Linked DNA regions of Homo sapiens. The protein of the gene in region 3 interacts with the protein of the main gene of each other region in a pairwise test. Each region holds a gene or a part of one and is shown on either strand. Other genes may lie near its edges.

Evidence for each region.
Region 1: the proteins of PEF1 (region 3) and WWOX interact in binary tests that used the Homo sapiens proteins (3 or more experiments, as listed by UniProt).
Region 2: the proteins of PEF1 (region 3) and SOHLH1 interact in binary tests that used the Homo sapiens proteins (3 or more experiments, as listed by UniProt).

Annotation. Positions count from the first base shown.
Region 1 is NC_000016.10:78,108,985-78,116,802, forward strand, and holds part of WWOX (WW domain-containing oxidoreductase), read left to right. Parts: intron 1-793; coding exon 794-851; intron 852-5,991; coding exon 5,992-6,170; intron 6,171-7,818. UniProt on the Homo sapiens protein: Putative oxidoreductase. Acts as a tumor suppressor and plays a role in apoptosis. Required for normal bone development. May function synergistically with p53/TP53 to control genotoxic stress-induced cell death.
Region 2 is NC_000009.12:135,696,333-135,704,417, reverse strand, and holds the start of SOHLH1 (spermatogenesis- and oogenesis-specific basic helix-loop-helix-containing protein 1), read left to right. Parts: upstream 1-4,936; 5' UTR 4,937-4,950; coding exon 4,951-5,015; intron 5,016-5,291; coding exon 5,292-5,423; intron 5,424-5,941; coding exon 5,942-6,089; intron 6,090-6,790; coding exon 6,791-6,912; intron 6,913-7,612; coding exon 7,613-7,806; intron 7,807-8,085. UniProt on the Homo sapiens protein: Transcription regulator of both male and female germline differentiation. Suppresses genes involved in spermatogonial stem cells maintenance, and induces genes important for spermatogonial differentiation.
Region 3 is NC_000001.11:31,634,773-31,642,590, reverse strand, and holds part of PEF1 (peflin), read left to right. Parts: exon of another isoform or gene 1-982; coding exon of another isoform or gene 983-991; intron 992-7,068; coding exon 7,069-7,369; intron 7,370-7,647; coding exon of another isoform or gene 7,648-7,745; exon of another isoform or gene 7,746-7,818. UniProt on the Homo sapiens protein: Calcium-binding protein that acts as an adapter that bridges unrelated proteins or stabilizes weak protein-protein complexes in response to calcium.

The DNA of each region.
Region 1 (7,818 bases), on a different chromosome or scaffold from region 3:
CTGAAAAATAGCGACAACAACAACAACAAAAACCAGAAAATAATTGAGGCCTTTGATTCACAGTTTATGATGTTTTCCTATCGTTGCAGTGTTTATAAAATTGTTCTTGGCTATACTATGGAATTAAATATATAAGTATTTGGAAATTTCGTAAAGATTACCATGACTTCTAGGTGATTCTGAGATAATGTATGATCCACGGAATAGAAGTATAAGAAAGGGACAGGCACGGTGGCTTGTGCTTGTGATCCCAGCCCTTTGGGAGGCAGAGGTGGGAGGATCACTTGTGCCTGGGAATTCGAGGTGAGCCTAGGCAACATAGTGAGACCCCATCTCAAAAAAAAATATGAGAAGGTTCCTGCCCTTAAGAGGTTTAGGATCCAGCTGAAGAATCAACATGTGCACATGAAAAAAAATGGCCGTGCCCTCTAATGTCATATGAGGTCAGCGTATGAATGACGTTGGGTGCCTGCCCTGCATATACATATGTTCTTTGAGCTCATTCAAGGGAGAATTCCCATGGATTGGCACAACCAGTATGGTTTATAGAGCGATCAGGAATAAAATAGGTTTTCTTCAAAACAAGAGGCAAAAATGTGGAGCCCAGGGTGGGATCAGGGGCCTTCTGCAGCTGTCGCAGTTGGAACATGTGACGAAAGCCAGTTGATGTGACAACTGCTGGGTGGGAGGGACAGGCTTGGGGGCGGGGCTGGGAGGGCTCCTTCCCTTCCTGACCCAGGGATGGTCTTTACTTCTCCCTGGCACCTGTAGACCTGTCTTTCTTGTGTTTCAGATTTGCCATACGGATGGGAACAAGAAACTGATGAGAACGGACAAGTGTTTTTTGTTGAGTAAGTGTCTGCAAAGAAACCACTCTCAGCTGTTTTGCTTTTTAATAGGAATTTTTAATTATAAAAGTAATACATAGTAACTGTAGAAAAATACAAAGTATAACAGTGTGTATCTGTAATCTTAGCAGAAGTGACTACTTTTAACATCGCTGGAACTTTTAACATCGCTAGATTTATTCTTCTATTTTCCCCGCACACGCATCCTTAAAAAAAAAAAGTAGGGAGGCCAGGCATGGTGGCTCATGCCTGTAATCCCAGCACTTTGGGAGGTCGAAGTGGGTGGATCCTGAGGTCAAGAGATCGAGACCATTCTGGCCAACATGGTGAAACTCCGTCTCTACTAAAAATATAAAAATGAGCTGGGTGTGGTGGCACGTGCCTGTGGTCCCTGCTACTCGGGAGGGTAAGGCGGGAGAATCACTTGAACCCAGGAGGCGGAAGTTGCAGTGAGCTGAGATCGCGCCACTGCACTCCAGCCTGGGTGACAGAATGAGACTCCTTCTCAAAAAAAAAAAAAAAAAAAAAAGAGGGAATGCACTGTGTGGACTGTTTAGTAACCTGCTTTTTCCATGTAATATATTATGAGCATTTTCTTGTATCCATATCTATTTTTCAAAAAGATGCTATTTAGCAGCTCTAGAGTTATTATTTTGTACAGATATACTATAATTTATCAAATTGCCTATTGGACATTAATGCTAAATTCCTGTTATAGAGAACCTATAATTATAAATAATGTATTGAGCATCCTTATCTGTAAGACTTTTTCACCTCTCTGATTCTGTCTTTAGGATAAATTCCGGTATCACGCAGCAATAGTAACCACCTGTCCAACATATAGCATGAGCCAGGCCTGATTCTAATCATCTTGTATCTGTAGCATTAGGTCATTGGATCCCCACAGTGCCCTGAGAGGTAGTATTGTTATTATCCCTAGCTTACTGCCAGTGACACAGACTTGAGGGGGTAAGTGACTTGTTAAGGATCCCACAGCAAAGAAGTAGCACAGCCAGGCTTTGAGCCCAGCACCTGCTCCAGGGACTGTACTCTTGACCACCGTAGTTAAGAGGAGAATTAATGTTTCACAACTGTCAACATTTAAATTAGAAGCTTGAATAGTCTTTGACAGGATTAGGATTGGTTGGTTAATAGAAGTTGATTTGAGCAGGAATTTTTTTTTTTTTTAAAGTTATGAATGTAACATAAACGTTTCAGTATTTGATTCAAGTACACCAACATTTAGGGGTCGGGCCAGCCCTCCTCTGAGTGTGAGTCCACTTGCATGGATCCAGTGTGGTCTTCCTTCCCCTAAGCATGCCTGTAACATAACATCTACAATTTCTACTTTCATTTTATGTGGGCGAAAGAGTACCTAGGTGCCGAGGCAAGAGACTGAAGGCACAAACTGTTTCAGTATAATAAAGAAAGTAGTTAGAATAAGAATAGTCATAATACAGGTTAGATATGGAGATGATCATGGACAATTATCAATCATTACTATAAACACTATTAATCATTAGCTTTTAATATTACTCTTTGTGGCATTACTAACATAACCTAGGAATAACTGGCATGTATAGGCTCAGGTGCTAAAGGGACATTGTGAGAAGTGACCTAGAAGGCAAGAGGTGAGCCTTCTGTCACACCCGCATAAGGGCTGCTTGAGGGCTCCTTGGTCAAGCGGTAACGCCAGTGTCTGGGAAGACACCCGTTACTTAGCAGACCGCGAAAGGGAGTCTCCTTTCCTTGGAGGAGTCAGGGAACACTCTGCTCCACCAGCTTCTTGTGGAAGGCTGGGTATTATCCAGGCCTGCCCACAGTCATCCGGAGGCCTAAACCCCTCCCTGTGGTGCTGTGTTTCAATGGTCACGTACGTTGTCCGCTTTCATGCTCCTCCCGTACTCCTGGTTCCTCTTTGAAGTACGTAGTAGATAGTGGTAGAAGAAATGGTGAAAGTTTTAAAGTCTTTGATCTTTCTTTTAAGGGCAGAAAAGAAAATGCTGACGTATGCTGCCTTCTCTCTCTGCTTCGGCTACCTAAAAGGGAAGGGCCCTCTATCCTGTAATCACGTGACTTGCTTCACCTTGTCAATCACTTAGAAGATTCACCCTCCTTACCCTGCCCCCTTGTCTTGTATGCGATAAATATCAGCGTGCCCAGCCGTTCGGGGCCACTACCGGTCTCCACATCTTGGTGGTAGTGGCCCCCACCCTGGGCCCAGCTGTTTTCTCCTTATCTCTTTGTCTTGTGTCTTTATTTATTACAATCCCTCGTCTCTGCACACGGGGAGAACACCCGCTAAGCCCAGTAGGGCTGGACCCTACAACTTTAAGGTTGAGCAAACACAGTATTTTCAAAGAATCTGATTGCTACATCATTTGGGAGTTTTATGGTATTTTTCTAGCATTTTCACTGTAGTTGATTGAACCAAAACTTTTTTTTTAGCTGCTTGTCTTTGAGGCTCTCCAAAGCATTCGACCACATTTTCATAGATACCACTGACACTATTTTTCACCTCCCATGTTATCAGTTTGTGTAATAGTAGCTTGCTGGTAATGTAGTTACAGTAACAAGTTCAAATGACATGTGTGTTTTTTGAGCAAACCTGGTGAACTTTTGGTGCAAAACTGATATTGAGAGCAAATAGGCCAAAGCTTGCTTGAGAGAAGTCTCCCAGGCCACCATAGGCAGCCCCAGGAAGACGGGGCTGTCTAGCAGTTGGATAGGTGGGAGTGCCTATTATTTGTTAAAAGGCTTTTTGCCTAACTTGTGAAAGTTTTTTTTCCTCAACTAATTAAGGGTATCAACGCATTGGTTGTATGTTGAAAATGTTGAAAATGTTTTTTTTTTTTTTCCAAGTTTTCTTTCTTTTTTTTTTTTTATACTGGGTCTTGCTCTTCTTATCCAGGGCTGAGGTGCAGTGACACAGTCACAGCTCGCTGCAGCCTCAACCTCCTGGACTCAAGTGATCCTCCTGCCTCAGCCTTCTGAGGAGCTGGGACTACAGGCTCATGCTGCCATGCCCAGCTAATTTTTAAAGACTTTTTTTTTGTAGAGACTGAGGCTCAGTATGTTGCCCAGGCTGGTCTTGAACTTCTGGCCTTCAGCGATCCTCCTGCCTTGACTTCCCAAAGCATTCATATTACAGGCATGAGCGACCACACCTGACTGAATTTCTTAAATTTTTTATGTAGTCAAATCAATTTTCTCCTGTGCAGTCTTTGCCTTTGCATTCACGCTTGGAAAGTTACTCCCTGAAATGGGTATTAATCAACCAAGAGCAGCAGTTCTCAGGCATGGTTCCTGGACCAGCAGCATTAATATCACCTGGGAATTCAATAAAAATGTACATTCCCAGGCCCCCACCCCAGACCTACTGAATCAGCACTGGGGTGGGGCTTGCAATCTGCGCTCTAATAGTCATCCAGGGGATCCTGATGTTCCCTAGCTTGAGAGCCTCCCGTCTAGAGCAGGGGCTGTCTCCTTTGCCTGTAAAGGGCTAGATAATATGTTTTAGGATTTGCAGGGCATATGGTTTCTGTTGCAATGATTCAACTCTGCCTTTGTAGTGCTAAAGCAGCTATACACAATATACAAGTGATGGGCGTTGTTGTGTTCCAATAAAACTTTATTTACAGAAACAGGCAGTGGGCCAGATTTGGCCAGCTCCTGGTCTAATCTAGAGGAGTAAGCAAGGGCTTTGGGGGGAACCTGGAAATTGGCTCCCCTGGCTAGTTCTCACTTTTCTGAGCCTGTTGCAGTGGGGTGCTGGTAAATGTTTAGCACCAGGTCTTCAGGGGGAAAAAAGCCACTGTTTGTTTCCACAGTATAAATACTTTGGCCATAGCTGATTTCATGCTGCCAAGGTGAAGTGAGGAATTGGGAAGAGATAGTCACGTTTGGCTCTTGTAAGCCAGTTTGAGCCAGTCTAGCATAGAACTGCTCTGTTGTGTGTGTATAATATTGGGGTCACAAATTAAGGTTGTTATAAATAGAATGAGGATGAGGATGGTAATAATTAGAATAAAGGTTGGATTATTACTCTTGAGTCTTGGTACTTATAGGGAGATGAGTATATATTTTAAACTAATTTTACACACACATACTTTTAAAATATGAAATTTCATCTATATTTAGAGGCTTCTTAATAGTTTTTAAGATATTCTGAGGTCTTTATCTCATATCCCAAGAATACATTTAAGATATAAAAAGTAAATTCTATTATAAGGAGTACTCTTTTCATCCATATGTGCCTTTTTTTTTTTTTTTTTTTTAATGGTTACCCAGGGTCTTGGTCTGTCACCCAGGCTAGAGTGCAGTGGCACAATCATGGCTCACTGCAGCTTTGATCTCTTAGGCTCACGTGATCATCCTCCTACCTCAGCCTCCCAAGTAGCTGCGACTACAGGCGTGTGCTATCACACTTGAAATTTTGTTTAGTGTTTGTAGAGATGAGGTCTAACTATGTTGCCCAGGCTGGTCTTGAACTCCTGGGCTCAAGTGGTCCTCTTGCCTTGGCCTCCCAAATTGCCGAGATTACAGGCGTGAGCCACTGTGCCCAGCCTCCAGTATATTTTAATACCATTTCTACAAGATTTAGATCAATTCCAAATCAAAATGAGTGCTCGTAGGAGGTATGAGTGCAGAGTCTTAAAATGAAAATCGTTAGAATTTTGGTAGTTGGCAGGTTTCTTATTTACAACTAAGACTTTATCATTTTGAGTTTTCTACTTCTCTACGTCTTTAGGCCCTTGCACAGGGCTAAGAGATTTAATTGAAATCTACTGAAAAGAGTGGCTGACAGATCTTATAGCTACATTTACATGAATTACATAAAAGCCCAAAACCTTCTCAAGAAGCCTTTTTTGAGATCTAAGGATACATGGCAATAGTTATTGTATGTTACAGCGTATGTTATAGGCAGTTCTGAAGGAAAGGATTCGATGACTATCTTTTTTTGGCACAAATGTGATCCTTCTGGAGGCCAGAAGATAGATTCAGTGGGCCCCAGTTCTTTCAGGTTTAAGGAATAAGCATTTTGGTCTATGAAAAATGGGGTTTTCCTAAAGTATAAGATTGTCTTATATTTATAAATGCCTGTGTTCATTGCTGTGGGTTCACTGCTTTCTCTTTTGGGCAGCCATATAAATAAAAGAACCACCTACTTGGACCCAAGACTGGCGTTTACTGTGGATGATAATCCGACCAAGCCAACCACCCGGCAAAGATACGACGGCAGCACCACTGCCATGGAAATTCTCCAGGGCCGGGATTTCACTGGCAAAGTGGTTGTGGTCACTGGAGCTAATTCAGGAATAGGTAGGCTCTTCACTTAGTTATTTATCTTTGGGACTGCTATAATGAGATCCACTTAGATCTAGCTATAATGGAATTTTGTTTAGTGGTTCTCTGATTTAAACATGACTTTTATCCTTTTCAGATATCGTTTCATTAACATCACTACCTCTTTTTAAATCCTAATGTTGTCATGGAAGCCTGTGTAGGGGCTGACCTTGAAGTCTCTGAAAGCTGAACACTCAGCAAAAGACTGTGGCTATTTTGGTATTCAGGGATGAGAGACAACAGGCTCCGTCTAAGAGTTTTTGACCTGGTCTGCATGGTGTATGGGCATATTCCAATTACCTGGGTTATTCAAACCAAAATTGATTGGTAATAGAATACGGGGAACAACAAGGTATTATGTCTTTGGAACAAAGGATACTACAGGTTTCGACTGGTCACTGAGCATATCATTTTCTTTTGGGCACAGGATCTTATTTCTCTATAAAATTGGAGAATGAGTTCCTGTCTTCACCTCTTAATTGCCAATGTTTACCCACAGGGACTATCATGGGTAGATGGCTCAAGAGGGTATCCTTGCTTCAATATGATGGGCCATTAAGGAGACAGGAGCAAGGCGGGAGCAAACCATAACTCTTCATAGGATTTTATTCTGATTTTGCTTTGATCTATTTACATAAGTATCTGAATCAGTGAGAACCACCTGCTTTGAGTTTAGATATGCATCTTCAGATTTGTCGACATATGAAACGTTGCATTTGGCTGTCTTCTGTCAAGTTCTCTCTGTCCTTTTGGTCCCCCGCAGCCCTCACACGGCCCCCTTGATGCCCTCCTCTACTCATTTGTTTCTCTTTCCTAATTTTGTTTTTATTTTTATTTTTTGTGGGTATATAAAGGTGTCTATATTTATGGGGTTCATGAGATGTTTTGATACAGGGATGCAATGTGAAATAGTCACATCATGGAGAATGGGGTATCCATCCCCTCAAGAATTTATCCTTTGAGTGATAAACAATTCAGTTATACCCTTTTAGATATTTTACAATGTGCAATTAAGTTATTATTAACTATAATCAACTTGTTGTGCTATCAAATAGTAGGTCTTATTCTTTCTTTCTATCTTTTTTGTACCCATTAACCATCTGCACTTCTTTCTTAATTTTGAACAATTCCTTGAAGCTGCAGAAATATTTTCTAGCATGATTAGGGAGGCACAGGAGGTAAAAATACATTGTTCAAGGGTCAATTATTGTGTTGTACAAGGTGTGAAATCTACCAGGTTGCCATCCGAGTGGAGAATTTTTTTACTGTACTTGCCTATGAAGGTAAAGAAGCAAATGGAAATTTTTTTTTAAGAATTGAAAGGATTTTATTTCAAATCAACTCTCATACCTCATCCTGGGCTCCAAATATGTTCAATCCACTTGTCTGAACTTCTGCATTGGAGTAAATTTTATATAATTGTCATTGAAGTCAAAACTGATGGCGTAATATTTAAAACAATGGCTGGATCCCCAATCTAAGAAGAATACATTTTGTTGATCATATTAAGTACTGTTACAGTGAATGCATGGACCCATACAATTGTGGAATAATTAAGAAAAAAGGACTTAAGGGCTTAAAAATGTCTTTTTAACAATTTAACAAGTTAGCCAGAAACTTTAAA
Region 2 (8,085 bases), on a different chromosome or scaffold from region 3:
GGAGCCCCACTTTCCGGCCTGATGGCCTTGAGGCTGACTCAGGGACACCACTAGCGTGGAGCTGGGGGTTTGAGCTGGGGCACTGGAGTGGGGTGGGGTGTCCAAGCACCTCCTGGCCCCTCTGAACCATAGCACCAAGGCTGGCATCCTCCAGCACCCAGGAAAGACAGAGGCCTGCTCAAGGCCTGGCACCAAGACCTATGGACTCCAGGGCCTGGGTTCTGACCACGCTGTTGCCTGGCACCCTCCTCCCCATGTGAGAGCTGGTGGGGAAACCCGCCCCACAGAGCTCCCCCCACCACCAGGCAGCACGAAGGTTCTTCTTTCTGCAGCTGAAGCCACCTGCCTGGGCCGCAAGCCTTGGCCTCACCTGGAGCTCAGCTCCCCGCTCCCGAGCCCAGCCAAGCCCAGGTCCTGCTCCCTCCCCAAGCCTGACGCCTGACATCCCTCCACTGCCGGCGGCTGCTCTGCCTGCAGTGTGACAGGGAATCTCTGTTGCAACGGAGGCCAGCTCAGTCCAGCGGGGAGGAGGAGCTGTCCCGGGCCGGTGGGCAGGGCCAATTGGGAGAGACAGGTGTCTGGAAGGACCCGGAGGATGAGGCCTGGAGCTAAAGGCTGGACCCTGAGGACACTGTCCTGCCGGCTCGTCTGGAGCAGGTCAGGCCCAGCAGGGTAGGTGATAAACTCCAGCAGAATGGCCAGGGAGGGCAACGCTAGGCTGGGGAGGGAGATGGTAGGGGCCGGCCAGCCCACAAAGATGAGGGCAATCCAGGACCCCCTTGGGGTCATTTTCTCTGTGCCTGACAGGCATCCCCCGGATAGTCCCTCAGAGCACGTCCAGGCTGTGCCCACTTCCCAAGGACATCACCAAGTCACTGTCCACCCTCAGAGCACCTGCTCCTCACACACGCTGTACCCCGGACTCCCCCGGGTGCCAGGTGGGTGCTGTGCCTGCCTCTTGATTCTGGGAACCTCCTCTCCAGCCTGGTCCCTCACCAGAGGCAGCCCTTAAAGACCATCCGCCCTACCTCCTCATTTTACACTCGGGGAAACTGAGTCCCATAGAACAAACAGGCAGCCGCACCAGGCCTCCCGCTCTCAGGTATGCTCTTCCACCCCCTTCTCTGGCCTCAGGACAGCCTGAGACTGGGCAGGATCCAGAAGAAAGGGCTCTGTCCTGGTGGGGAGGGGTTCGCCCAAGGCAGTGACCGGCTCTGCCCAGGGTTCCCTGGAGTCTGGCTCTGGGGACAGGGTGAGGGGCAGACTTGCCTGTTTTCAAGAGCTGAGGGATGGGGGAGAGGATGGGGAACCTGGACCCTGGGGCAACCTCCGCTCAGGACTGTCCCACTCAGCTGCCGGTCCGTGCCTCTGCACTGGTCACTGGGTGGACGGCAGACGCATGGCATCCCAGGACACTGCACAGGGAACAGCTAGCTCCAGGTCACCTGAATGCCATTCTCAACTGGCCCTCTCCTCCCAGGGATAGGCCAGCGGGGAACGAGGAGTGACCAGAACCCAGGACTCCCGCCCTCATCTGACAGCCACTTAGCCCACTTCCCACTGGGGACTCTTCCTTGGAAGGTTGCTCTGGAAACCCCCTACTGTGTGGGGTAACCTCGCCGGGCACCCCACCCTGGCCGAGCACTGCCATGCCACACAAGAAGGATGGAACCTTCCTCCCCAAGCTGGGGTGGGGCAGGGGCTGGGGGAGATGGAAGGCCCTGCACCGCCCCCAGCCTCCCTGCCACTCCCCACACCTGGGAGATGCTCAGGACCCCCATGTAGCCACGGCCGCTCCCCCCAGCTTCTTACCAGGTCGAGGACAGATGGGGACGGACGCTGCTGCCTCGGCACCTGCTGATTAGTGCGGCCCACCCTGAGGGGCGCCCCTGTTCCCCAAGGTGGTTGGGAGGGCACTCGCGGGTCCTGGGGAAGTTGGATGGCCCTGGGAATGGCGGGTCCTGGAGGGTGCGGGAGCCTGAGGGGGAACTTGGGGGTCTTAGGTTAGACCGGGGCCTCCCCGCGTGGGGAGGGCGCAGCAGACTGTACCTGGGGGCGCATTGGCCGTCGTCAAACTCGAAGGTCCGGTTGGTGTAGCCCCCGCCGCGCGCCTCCCGGCAGACGCCCCCCGGGGTCCGCGCCCCGTCAGGGAGTGGCATGCGGCCTGGCAGCTCGGACCCGACCCGAGGGAGAAGCGAGTGGGAGCCGCCACCTTCTTCCCTCGCGTTGCCCTGAAAAACATTTTTTTTTTCCTCGCAGATTAGCGAGGAAAAGACGCCAGTTCCAGGGTCGGGTGCAGGCGTCTGTCCGCGCGCGCCCCCTGCCGGCCGCGCCGGGACCCGCGGCGGCTCTGGCCCAGGCTGGGACGGGGGTGCGGGGTAGGGAGGGCGATCCGCTCCCGCCGCGGCCCTCTGAGCCCTCAAAACTCCGAAAAACAGGACGGGGTTCGTCAATGGCTAGAAAAGCCCAAGCGCGCCGCCACCGGGCCCTACACCCCTGGGAGGGCTCCGTGGTGGGCGGGGGCTCAGGGGGCTCTGGGTCCTTGGCGGGCAGCAGGGCACATGCGCTGCTCGGACCGCCAGCGTCCAGCCGCTGCGCCCAGGGACCGTCAGCACCTCCCGCTTGTGCTGCTCTGCCGTGGTCAACACTGGTCATTGAACACAAGCCAGATTCAAGACGACTCCCCGCCCCCCCGCCCCCACACCCCCCGCAGGCTGCGGCATCTGTGGGTGGGCGCCACATCCTGGGCTTGGCCTGGGGGAGGGGGATGACTGCACCCCGCCCTGTGCTCTCACCCAGACGGGCACACACAGCACCTTTAGACGGGTGGGGAGGGGCCCCAACTTAAGATGCTGCAGGCCAAAGACTAGGAAGCAGAGGGTCCCCCTGCGGGCCCCCTTTCCCGTGCACGTGCTCACACTGTTACACATGCGTCACCCTGGCTCAGCCTCACACAGAGCTCTGGAGAACTGCGATTTCTGTCCCCAGAGCTTTGTTGGTTTGCAGGGTGGACCAGGCCCCTCACTAAGCCAGGACTGTGCCCACGAGGGCCAGGGGGAGGGCCAGGTCCATTTGGAGGGCGCATGCCATGTACTTTGTGGTCCCTGGCCTCCCCAGTGTCTCTCCAGAGGGTCCTTCCCTGTTTCTCCAGGAGGCAGCAGGCTGAACACAGATGCTTTTGAGGGGTGGGTGGGGAACACTCGGGGAAGTCTAGGATGCTAAGTCCCCAGCAGAGGTTCAGCCTGTGCCCCCGCCACACAGCTCGTGGGCATCTTGGGGGTTTTTCCTCAGGTCCCTAGATTGGCCGGTGCTGCTGCCGGGGTCCCACCACCCCTGGGCGGGTGCCGCCGGGGCAAGATGGTGGCCTTTCTGCCAACGCCCTCCTGCCTGGGGAACTCAGAAAAAACTGAGAGGCCGCACCATCTGCATCTGTGATTAATTAGCAGTAATTACACGTGTTGTCAACGGCAGGAGAGTCACAGGTTTGATGACATTCCGAGGGCTTTAGGGAAACAAAAACTTGGCCCCACTCTGCCACTGAGGAGCCCCAGATCGCCAGCCCGTCCATCCCTCCCTGGCCAGGGGCAGGGCCGGGAGAGGGGCCCAGGTCCCCGAGAGCTTTTGCCCTCCTCTCCAACCCCGTCCTCCTCCATGTCTGACCTGCAGCCAAGGCTGGGCGGAGCAGGGATGGAGACACCACCTTATATTACATAACCTCCCTCTGCTCCAAACACCCTTCACCCATCTTTGGCCCAAAGTCCAGGATGCCAGCCCGAGGCCCAGAGCCGCGCCTTCTCCACAGGAGACTGGGGCACCCCGGACAGACGTCCCCGTGTGGTGGCACCTGCCCGGGCTCCTTCTTGCCTCCCCTCTCGGGAGGAGAGCCCCTGCCACCCACCCCACCTCCTCCCGCTACGACCTCAGCACGAGCCAGGCCAGGGATGTCCTCCCAACAGTCCAGCCTCACCCCCCACCCTCGTCCCCTCTGCTTCCCTGAGGGCCCCCCGCAACCTCCGTGAAAGAGGAAGGGTCTCCACCTCCCCCTTCCCTCCGTCATCCCCCCAAAAGTATGTACTGGGGGACTCAAGCCCAGCGCAGGGCGGCTCCTGGAGTTCAGCGGGGAGGTGAGCAAACACCTGGCGCCGGAGCTTTCTGAATTTGGATGGGCAGGACCCCCGCGATCCCGCAGAAACCTGTTGAGAGTGTGAGGTGAGGGGTCGAGCTGGGGCCCCAGGGCATAAAGCGGGGATGGTGCTTGGGCAGGGCCAGGTGAAGGGACAGACGGTTCCGAGGGTGCCCGGCAGAGCTCAGCGGGAGGAAGAGCACGGACGATGGTGGCCTGGGGTGGGGACAAGATGCCCCTGGTTCTGGGCGACCCAGAAGTGTGGATGGTGACCCTACCCTGAGGCGCAGCGTCTGCAAGCGTACTAGATTTGGGGGAAAATGGAGGCGTGGGCGACTGGGGAGCAGGCGGGTACCCTTCCCCCTCCCTGTGTCCCTGGGTCCCCCAGGCCTGGGCTAAACAACTCAGCCCAGCCCGCCCACTCCCACCAGGGGCTGGGCTCCTAAGGGCAGAGCCCGCATCTCCAAAGTGCCCAAGGGCACCGAGACCACCGCATAAGTGGGAACCGAGGCGACCCCCGGGAAGGTAAGGGTAGAGGCAGGGCCACCTGGGCTGGGGCCCCTTCCCCTGGCGTCCTGCGGGGGCATAGAGTGGGTGGACCCCCCGAGTCCCTTTCCAGCACCTTCTTTGCAGGAACGCGGGTCACGTGGGCCCCGGGCTGGCTGCGTGGGGAGGGCTAGAGCGCATGCGCTATGGGGGCGGATTGCAAGTGGGGGTGGGGTGGGCTAGGTGGAAAGCACGTGGCAGGTGGGCAGAGCACACGTGAGGGGGCGGGGCTGCCTGCGGAAGGGGCCGTGCGCGTGGGGTCGCTCCGCAGCTGCGAGTTCATGGCGTCCCGGTGCTCCGAGCCCTACCCGGAGGTCTCCAGAATCCCTACCGTCAGGGGATGCAAGTGAGGAATTGGGCTGGCGGCCAAGGGGTTGGGGGCCCAAGGCCTGTACCCAGGGGTTCTTCCGCAAGTTGCTGGGCTCCACCCATCCTGGGCCTCCTGGGGCGGAGCCCTGGACCCTGGGAGAGGGGAAGGGGTGCAGAGAGGGCCGGGCCGTGTCCCTACGTGACCCAGTCTTGGCTTCCACCCGCACCCCAAAGACGCCCATTCTGGCATCTGGGACTCCTGGTGGCCTTTTCTGGGGTTCTCAGGGCCCGGTGCTCTTGGCTTTCTCGGCAGCGGCTCCCTGTCTGGTGCCCTCTCCTGCTGCGAGGACTCGGCCCGGGGCTCGGGCCCGCCCAAGGCCCCTACGGTGGCCGAGGGTCCCAGCTCCTGCCTTCGGCGGAACGTGATCAGCGAGAGGGAGCGCAGGTGAGTGGTGGTGCCTCCCAGGGGTGAGGGCGCTGTAAAGGGGTGGAGCGGGTGAGATTATGTTCGGGGCTGCCACCAGGTGTCAGGCAGCTGGGAGGGGCTCGTGGCCTGTGCCCAGGAGAAGGACAGACTGCACATCTCCAAGTAAACCAGAAAAGCCCTGTTGGGGAACATCCTGCAGCCCCTCTTTATCCTGAAGCCTTGGCCTCTTGAGGCTGTGCACCTGTGACCCTCTGTGCTTCTGACTGCCTCTGACCCTCGCTGTCTTTTCCACACCGCAAAGCAGCCATGGTTTGGGCCTGGGCTGGACAGCCTGTCGCCGAGGTCCAGGGGTCAGGCCCAGGCTGTGCTCTGATGTGGATCTCGGGGCTTCAGACCACGGGGGCAGCTCTGAGTCATCTTGTAGCCCCCTCTGCCTGACAAGCGCCCAGGGTCTATCTGGCAGGTTCTAGCAGTTGCTGTCCCTTCTCGGGGAGGGCAGGAGGGCCCAGAGGTATTTGTTTCTTGACCGGAACCAGGAAGCGGATGTCGTTGAGCTGTGAGCGTCTGCGGGCCCTGCTGCCCCAGTTCGATGGCCGGCGGGAGGACATGGCCTCGGTCCTGGAGATGTCTGTGCAGTTCCTGCGGCTTGCCAGCGCCCTGGGGCCCAGTCAGGAGCAGCACGCTGTGAGTTGTAAGGGTAGACGCCGTCAGTCCTCCGGCATCACGGTGATGGGACATCTCACCACCTTGCAGGCAGTGTGTCCCCTGTCATCCCCGTCTCCTTCAGCCCTCTGGGTCTCCACGGCTAGAGCAGGCCACGTTTTCGGCAGGGCACTTCCTGATTTGTTCAAGCCTTACCTGTTGTTATTCTGTTCCTGGAAAGGAGCAAGCCTTCCTTTCCAGCCCTCCTGTGCCCCTGAGTCCTGTTCATTGATGGGTTGCCGAGATGCTCCGTGCCAATTTGGGGGAGAGTTGGGGTCTCCTGATCCTCCCTGGCTGAGCACCCCCTAGATCATTTCTCTGCACGTCTCCAAGAGAGAGGCTCCTCTCCCCTCTCCAAGGCTCTGGGGGCTCTGGCTGACCCCGTGAGTGCTGGGGCTGAGGACCTGTGTGGGGAATGAAACTGTGTTGTCATCTGTGAGGTCAGGGGTCCCAGCATTTGCAGTGAGGCCCTTGGGTATGCACAGCCTGATTCAGGAATGGTGGGGCCTTTCGGGGGTGGAACCTCAGCCTCGTTGTCAACCTGTACTCTCGCCCCCAAGTTCCAAGCGGGGACCGAGCTCACAGTGACCCTCCAGGCCCTGGGGTAGCAGTCTTGTCACCGTGTCTTGGGTTTCTCAGCTGACTGTCTCTGTCTTTGTTTTACATGTTTACTTAAATTTCAGATTCTTGCTTCCTCCAAGGAAATGTGGCACTCGTTGCAGGAGGATGTTTTACAGTTGACGTTGTCGAGTCAGATTCAAGCAGGTGTGCCAGACCCTGGGACGGGAGCGTCCAGCGGGACTCGGTTAGTGTCTCCTGGGGCCCGCTCTCCAGGGCTGGGTGACCCTGGGAGCAGCAGACCCAAAGCCCCCTGGCATGTCCTCGGGAGGGTGTGGCCTGGAGGCCCGGCTTGGCCTCCGCAGGTGGTGACCTGCCCAGGGCCCTGCCAACTCAGGTGGCCAGGTGTGAGGTGACCAACATGGGCGAGCTCCAGCAAGGGGGGAGCGCGGTCAGCAGAATTGAGGGCCTGGGCTGGTGTGGAGGTGGGAGGTGCCCGGGAGGATCTCTTCTGCTCCTGTGTGTGGGGAATTTACAGGTGGTCAGTGAGGTGTCATACTCCTCCCCATGGGCAGCTTCAGGAATGCAGTTTTCTGAAGTCAAGATAATTTGGTTCTTTTCAGAATGGCAGCTCCCCAGGTTGAAGGACTGTCTGCATCTTGTGTTTAAATGTACCCATTTTACCCCAAAGCAGGCTGGGGCATGGGACTGGTGGCTAATTAGCTGTGGAAGAATCTAGAACCGGAGGAGTTGGGCAGAGGGAAACTGGGTAGACAGCTGTGGAGCTTGGCTGGCCCAGGGCCCCTGGGCAGAGGCTGGCTTGATGCTGGGTGGTGCCTGGGGTGTCCTGGGGATGGGTCCAGCCCTCTGCTCTTGGGGTGGGTGGGGGCAGCCTTCCAGGGGGCTGGGGAATAGACCCAGGATCCTTGTCATGTTGCTCCTTCTAGAACCCCAGATGTGAAGGCGTTTCTGGAAAGTCCTTGGTCCCTGGATCCAGCGTCGGCCAGCCCAGAGCCCGTGCCGCACATCCTTGCGTCCTCCAGGCAGTGGGACCCCGCGAGCTGCACGTCCCTGGGCACGGACAAGTGTGAGGCACTGTTGGGGCTGTGCCAGGTGCGGGGTGGGCTGCCCCCTTTCTCAGGTGAGTCCTGGGTGTGCATGTGGGGTGCCTTTGGCCTGGGGAGCGGCGCCAGGCTGTGCTTTAGCCCTAAGAACAATGGGGGCTGTTTGCAAACGGGGTTCGAAGTTTTCCCAGGCCCTTGTGTTGGTGAGAAACCCACGTGTTGAGGGATGAGCTTGATTCAAGGCCCCCGGGCTGTGCCTGCTTTTGTGAAAAGGAGGACGTGTGCTCTCGGGAGGGAGGAAGTGTGGCTCGAGGAAGGGAGAGTCCTGGGCAAAGGCCACCATGGGAGCTGTTCCT
Region 3 (7,818 bases):
AAAGGAAACGAGTTGTTTTAAAGCATCTCAGTCAGTGCTGCCTCCCCTCCACCCACTACATAGCTTTGGAGGATTCCAGCCTATTGTTAGGAGTCAGAATTCCTGTAATTTTCCACTGCTTCCAGTCCAGGGTACCCAAGCAGGGACTGGGTATTGGAGTAGTAAAATTCAAGCACCCTTTGGTCCTATGGGGGAACGAGCTTGGTGGATTTCAGTGCTTAAGAGCTTAGTTTTTGAGGCCAGAGAGAGTTGATTTCAAATCCCTGCTTTGTCACTCCCTTGCAGAAGTTTGTTGCAAAAGTCTGAGACTCAGTTTTCCCTTTTTTGAAAAAAATTTTTTATTTATTTGTTTATTTTTAAGACAGAGTCTTGCTCTGTCGCCCAGGCTGGAGTGCAATGGCACAATCTTGGCTCACTGCAACCTCCGTCTCCCGGGTTCAAGCAGTTCTCCTGCCTCAGCCTCCCAAGTAGCTGGAATTACAGGCGCACGCCACCACACCTGGCTAATTTTTTGTATTTTTAGTAGAGACGGGGTTTCGCCATGTTGGCCAGGCTGGTCTCAAACTCCTAACCTCAGGTGATCCACCTGCCTCAGCCTCCCACAGTGTTGGGATTACAGGCGTGAGCCACCACGCCTGGACTAGTTTTCCCTTCTTTAGAATGGGGTCATAATAGTATCTACCTCAGAATTACTCTAAAGATTAAATGAGAAAATCCACGTAAAGTGCTAGGTATGGTGTTGGGCATGTAGAATACTCCAAGTGGAGGAGTAATGCAGTTATGCAGATTGAAGAGGCAATGTGATAAGTATTCAATGGGAGTAAGTGTAAGGTACAGCACGGGAGAGTGAGATACCTAACTCAGTCTAGGGGTGCATTTTTAAAAGAGGTGATATTTAAGCCAACAACTGAATCACTGGTAGAAATTAGCTGAGTGAAGAAAGGAATGCTATTCCAGCAGAGGAAATAGCTGCACAAAGCCCATGAAGCAGGTAAGACAGCCTAGTATTTTGGAGGAACTTTAAGAAGTTCAGTGTAGTTGTAGTGATGTGGGGGAAAGGGGTAGGAAATAAGACTAGAAAGGTAAGCAAGGGCCAGATCCCAAAGGGCCTTGTATGCCTTTTTGGGGAGTGTGACTTCATCCTAAGAGTAGTGAGGGAGCCAGTGAAGTGTTTTGTCCCATTTGTGCTTTGGAGTGCTTACTGTGGGGTGCTGTGAGAATGGATTGAAGCAGGAGAGACAGGAGGCAGGGATACCGGTTTTGACGCTATTGAGGTAATCTAGGCTAAAGAGAACTGTGACCTGGTAGAGGAGATTTGAGAAGCACTTGGGAGGTAGATTTGAGAAAACTTGGCCTTAGGTTTGGATGATTAAGCAGAACGGAGCTCCATTCACTGAGATGAGAACACAGGGAGGCATGGGTTTGGAGGGAAGGTCCAGTAGGCTGCTGGATATGTGGGTCTGTAGCTCAGGAGTGATGAAGCTGGAAAGATTTGAAAGTGTGAGCACAGAGGTAATTGAAGTCTGGGGATGGTTCTTGGCTCATTGTTTATTGGTTGCGTGCTTCTCTCCTATTTCAAGTGGCTCTGCTGGTGAATGCTTGAACTGTTCCTCTTGTCTTCCTGTGATTGTTTAACCCCTTAGTTTGGGCTTCCCACCTCCTCCTGTGCACTTGAAGGGTAGCTCTGGGGTACAAACTTGTCTTTGCAATGCTCCCTCCTCCATTCGTCATCAGGGCTCAGCTTGGAACAGCCGTTGATACCTTTAAGCTTCACAGGGGTCTTGAGGTTAGAAGACTTGAGTCCTCAGAACTGGAAAGAAAAAAAAAATACCGGACTTTCTGAGGTGGTTATTTGGGAGGAGGTAAGCTCCCTACTGCTTGCGCAAGTGCAGGTAGAGATTCCAGGTGGTTCTGCAGAGATTCCATTATTAACTGAGAGGTTGAACTGAAGAGTCTTTGGGGTGTCTTCCAAAATGTGGCTTGGCTCTCAAAGTGACTCTAGGTGCTGGGACGAAAAAGAATGAGATTTTTCTAAGAGTCCCTGATTTCTGGGCTTGAAGGCTCTGAGAGATCACCCAATCCAGCCTTCCCCTCTACCTCTGTCCACAGTAGAAATTCATTATATTTGACAAAGACATTTAGCACAGTCCCTCACACAGACACATGCTAGGCACTCACTCATTTATTGAGTGAACAAACAGAAGGGGGTAGTGTAGAGTCATGCAGACCCTGACTTGAATCCCAACTTGCCCATTCTAGCTGCATGATCTCAGGCATGTTATTAAACTCTCTGCCCCTTAATTTTCTCATCTGCAAAATGGAGATGACACTGTTTACCTCACAGGACTGAGGATTAGTGAGAGCTGGTTGAACTGGAAGCACCTAGCAGAGCCTCAGTAAATGTTTGTTGCCCCCAGTCCCCCCAGGGCATCAGATGTAGCTTATTTGCAATCAGCCAGAGCCCTAGAGATAGTTTTTCTGTGTTGCTTCAGAAGCTGCAGTTACTGAACTCTTCCTGTCCTTCCCCTCCACCTGCCTTCACAATCCTGTTTATCAGTATGAAATAACTCTTGGAAAAACTCTAAAAAGGGCTGGGAGCATGGAGTAGTGTAAAAGAACGTGGAGTCAGGGATGCTGTTTTTCATTTCTGGTTCAGACCTTTGCTAACAACTCAGTGACACTGGGTGACCCTCTGTGAGGTGGGGACCACCTCATCTTCTTCCCCAAACTTCCTGTGCAGCCTGCATTCTGTCTCAGTTGGCTCCACCTCCTTCATCTTGTGCAAAAGCTAGAAACCCGAGTCATTCTGAACACTTTCCTCACTCCTCCTCCATCTCTTTCCTAATCTAATTAGTCACCAAGTCATGTCTGGTCTATCTCTGAAATAGCTTCAGAATCCATTCCGTTCTCTTCATCCCCAAGTGTGCTGTCTGGTTCATGCCCTGCCTGCCCAGCACCTGGGCTACTGCCTCCCTCACTGGCTCATCCTCCACACCGCCGCTGGTTACTTCTCTAAACAAGGTTCTCATCACGTTCCTCTCCTATTGGAAACCCTTCTATAGTGCTCTGTTTTCTCCGGCATAAAGCCCCAACAAAACTCTTTAGAGTGGTGTTCATTTGTCCAAATATTTGTGGAGGCTTGCAGGTGCCAGGCACTGTGCTGGGCCCTGGGGTGCCATGATGAGTGAGGCGCAGTGTCTGCCCCTGGGGAGCTTACTGTTGGGTGGGGGAGATGCTAGACAGAAACTACTCTTAGACACTGATACCTCACGGCTAACTGAAATGCAGGGGGAGAGGTGCTTGGTCAACGAGTGTATAGAGGGCCTGCCTTTCTGGGTTCACACTGCATTCTTGGCTCTGCGGTTTAACTCATTCCCTGAATGCACTATGCTCACTCTTAAGTCTGTGCGTTTGTCTTTCTTCTCTCTTCTGTCTGGAGTGTCCTTCCCTGCCTGCCTTTTGGAAAATGTCTATGCATCCTTCAAGGACCATTTCCAATATCACTGCCACTTCCTCCAGGAAGCTTTCCTTGACCCACTTCATACATTGTTCATTTATTCATTCTGCAAACAGCACAAATTCCTCCATCTAAGCTTCCTTGATAGCACATAAGTAGATTTTTCTGATGGCACTGATCAGATTGTATCACAATTATCTGTGGGCCCCTTAAGGGCAGGACTTCATTTACTTGTGTCCTCAGATCTACTACAGAGCCTAGTACAATATTGTCACTCTGAAAATGCGTGCTGAATGAAGTCCTTTAACAGCTCCGTGGCTTAGTTTCTTCATCTGTAAAAGAGGGCAACTAACATCTTCCTTTTTTCTGTTAGGAGGCCATTGGCAAGATTCTGCCTGTAGTGTTTGTGTTTGTGAAAGTACTTTGTAAACTACAGAGGAGGTCTTCAAATGCAGGACAGAAAGGAAAGGGTTTAATTGCTGCCAGACTACAATAGCCAGAAGGGCAGGAGACCTGCCTGGCAGCACCTGCTTTGTTGGCCTGGGGATGTTTCCTAGGTGGTTTATAGGTGGTTTCCTAGGTGGGTTTTCCTAGGTGCCAGGTGCGGTTTATAGCTTTGCTCACAGGGCTTATAGTGGGGCAGCTACTTCTGGCTTCGTGTCTGGCCTGTTCTTTGGGTGTGCCCAGATTCTGCAGAGTTCCCACTCCCTTTCCATCCTATGCTGGAATCCTGAGCCCTATTGCTTAATGAAGGAGTGTTGTAGCAGGAGGCAGGGGGAGTCATTGGGTGCAAGGGAGTGGTCCAGCCTTGTCTCTTCCTCCAGCTCACAGCATTACTTGGGCAAGTCCCTCCCTCCCTCCCCCATCTGTAAAATGGGGGTTAGGTTAAGTGACTTGTCTTCTGGGTATTTCTCTTGTCACACCTCTCCAACCCCTTGGGAATCCTGTTCGTTCTCTAAGTCCTAGCTCAAATGCCACTCTCATGGAAACACTCCCTGATTTTACCCTCCTTCCTTTGCAGTCCTATGGCACATGACTTATGTCTCCATTTCAAACACCTGTTTTCCTTATGCTGTTTTGTTAGACGTTACACAGTGTCTACATGTTAAGTCTTGTTAACTGTGAGTGCCTTCAGATTGCTTCACTCTCCTTTATACCCCACCCCGCACAGTTCACCTGGCCCAGGACTTTGCTGATAACAGTAATTAATATAGCAATAGCAGCTATGACTTACTGATCATTTGCTTTATGCCAGGCACTGTTGTAAAAACTATTTTTCTTATGTGAGTGGTTTTCAGACTGTCTTTTCAGTCACTGTGAGGGGTTTTCAGAGCCCCCTCAGAATGTAGCAAGGGAGGGGGTTCCATATTGTAGGGGCTCTGGAGCTCCCACCTTACTTCAGCCAGAGCAACTTTCTTGTATTTGTTTTATTTATTTTATCAAAGGATTCTTTCTTTCTCTCTCTCTTTTTTTTTTTTTTTTTTTTTTTTGGAGACAGGGTCTCCCTCTGTTACTCAGGCTGGAGTGTTGTGGCACAATCACAGCTCACTGCAGCCTCCAACTTAGGCTCAAGTGATCCTTCCGCTTTAGCCTCCCGAGTAGCAGGGACTACATGTGTACCACCATGCCCGGCTGATTTTTAAAAATTTTTTGTAGAGGTGGGATCTTACTATGTTGCCCAGGTTGGTTATCAAAGGATTCTTTAGCTAAAAATTAAACTGACAGAATTTTGCTGCATTTATTTTTTATAATCTGCAGAACAGTCCAGTGAGGAAGGAATTGTTCTATTTGTGAGGAAGCAGGCTCAGAGAGATGAAGCCACGGGCCCACAGTCATGAACTTAGCTGATGGGAGCAGAGTTTTAAATTGAGATCTGTGTGAGCCATTCTTGTCTGTGAAGGAGTCTTGCTAGTAGCTATGACAGCTTCTAGGGTAGAAAAGCTCCCAAGGATTGCTGAGTGGGTGACAGGGCCTGCTTCCTGCCCTCCCCACAAAAAAACCTCATGAATTTGGCCTTAGCCTTAAGAGTAATTATTTCAAGCTATCAAACACAATAAAAAGAGAAAGCCCAGGCTCTCAGTGGCTTGGCCACTGGTGCACTTACAGGTTGATCTAGAACGTATCTAGATGGTGCCGTTCTCGGAGCTGGGCCTAGCTGCTGTCTGTGCCCTTGAGCTCAGCTTGTCTGCAGATGTGTTGGGGCTGTGCTCTGCTGGGTCCTGTGCTAGCCATTTAGGGAGATGGAGCGGAACACTCCGAGGGCTACTGGTGTGGGAAGATGGATGAGAGAGGGAATGCCCCCATGTATGCTCTAATGCACAAATGCCCTGGACATAGAGCCAAGAGACCCAGGTTCTGGTCCCAGCCCCTCCACACAGCCTGTGTGTGACTTTCCTGGACTTGAGTCTTGTCCTCTGTAGGAGGCTATTATTAATAGTGTTTATTGAGTGCTTAATTTGTGTCAGGCCCAATGTCAAAGGGCTTCACATAGCTGGCCTCATTTCATTCACAAACTAACCTGAGAGGTAGCTATTATTATTCCCATTTTATAGCAGAAGATGTTGAGGCTTAGAGAGGATAAGTCAGTCCAGTTAGTAAATGGCAGAACCTGAACTTGAACTCTTGAACTGGTTGTTTTTTGTTTGTTTGTTTGTTTTGAGATCGGATCTTACTCTGTCACCCAGGCTGGAGTACAGTTGTGTGATCATGGCTCACTGTAGCCTCGACCTCCCCAGGCTCAGGTGATCCTCCCACCTTAGCCTCCTGAGTCATTGGGACTATAGGTGTGCGCCACCACACCTGGCTAATTTTTGTATTTTTTAAATAGAGATGTAGTTTTTCTATGTTGCCCAGGTTTTTAGTAGAGATGTTGTTTTTCTGTGTTGCCCAGGCTGGTCTCTAACTCCTGGGCTCAAGCAGTCTGCCCGCCTCAGACTTCCAAAGTGCTGTGATTACACAGCTGTGAGCCACCACGCCTAGCTGTTGAACTGGCCTTTGAAAGCATTGTATCGTATTGCCTTAGGAATAGGGTCTCCCCTGCCTGCCTCACAGAGTTGTGAGTGAGGATAGGGAAATGTTTTTACATCAGGGTAAGGAAGACATGCTGTGGATGAATCCATGCTATAGCTATGTCATTTGTGACTGATGAGGGTCAGGGGTGTGTGTTAGAGACTGCGTTTGCCCCATGAGTTCTGCAGATAGAGATGGGAGTACCACAGGATGGGCATTTGGAATTCTGTTTGATTCATTTGCCTATTCATTCATACAGGAAATATTTACCAAGTATCCATTCTACACTGGGAGCTGGGGATAAAGTGACAAACCAGACAGGATCCTAGCCCTTGTGGAGCCCCTTGATGTGCAGGAAAGGAGAGTTAGGAAAGGAGGATTTCAACCCTGACTCTGCAGGTCATTGGCGGGGTGACTTTGGGTAACTCGTTGCTCCTCTGGAAGCCTCAGTTTGCCCATCTGAGCAGTGAGATCATAATTCCAACCCTACCTATAGGATCAGTTGAAAGGATGGTGGTGGAAGTGCTTTATGGTTGTAAAGTGCCATACTCTGCCTAGTTTCTGGCCTCATCATTCTGACTGATATCTTGCTCTTCCTGCAGGGCTGCCCAGGAGCTGCAGGACAAGCACCAGGAGCCCCTCCGGGTAGCTACTACCCTGGACCCCCCAATAGTGGAGGGCAGTATGGTAGTGGGCTACCCCCTGGTGGTGGTTATGGGGGTCCTGCCCCTGGAGGGCCTTATGGACCACCAGCTGGTGGAGGGCCCTATGGACACCCCAATCCTGGGATGTTCCCCTCTGGAACTCCAGGAGGACCATATGGCGGTGCAGCTCCCGGGGGCCCCTATGGTCAGCCACCTCCAAGTTCCTACGGTGCCCAGCAGCCTGGGCTTTATGGACAGGGTAAGTAGTAATCTTGGACTCCGGGTACCTCTGACGTGGTTCTGAGTTATCCATGGCCAGCCTTTGTCCTTCCTGTGGGTGTGCAGGCAGCCTGGTCTCTGGCACCTTAGCATCTTGCTTCCAGCTTCAGTGTGTATCCTCAAAATGATAAGTTTGTCAGCTAGTTTTGTTGCAAGCATTTATTTGTATTGCTTGCTCATGCTTACTTTCTTTTGCTTACATGTCAGCAGCTGTTAGCTGGCTGTTGAGTTTCTGTTCCCTGTGTCTTTTTCATTCAGGGATACATGCTGAAGGAGCAGCTCCTGTTTGGGATATGTTATCTTTGTGGCAGAGAGAAGGAGCAGGAGAGCTAGCAAGAATGCACAATGCCTCTTAAAGCTTCTCTGAAGTACTGTATGTCTTGCCCACTTGCATTCTTTTGGCCAGAGCACCCCCTGATCAAGACTGAC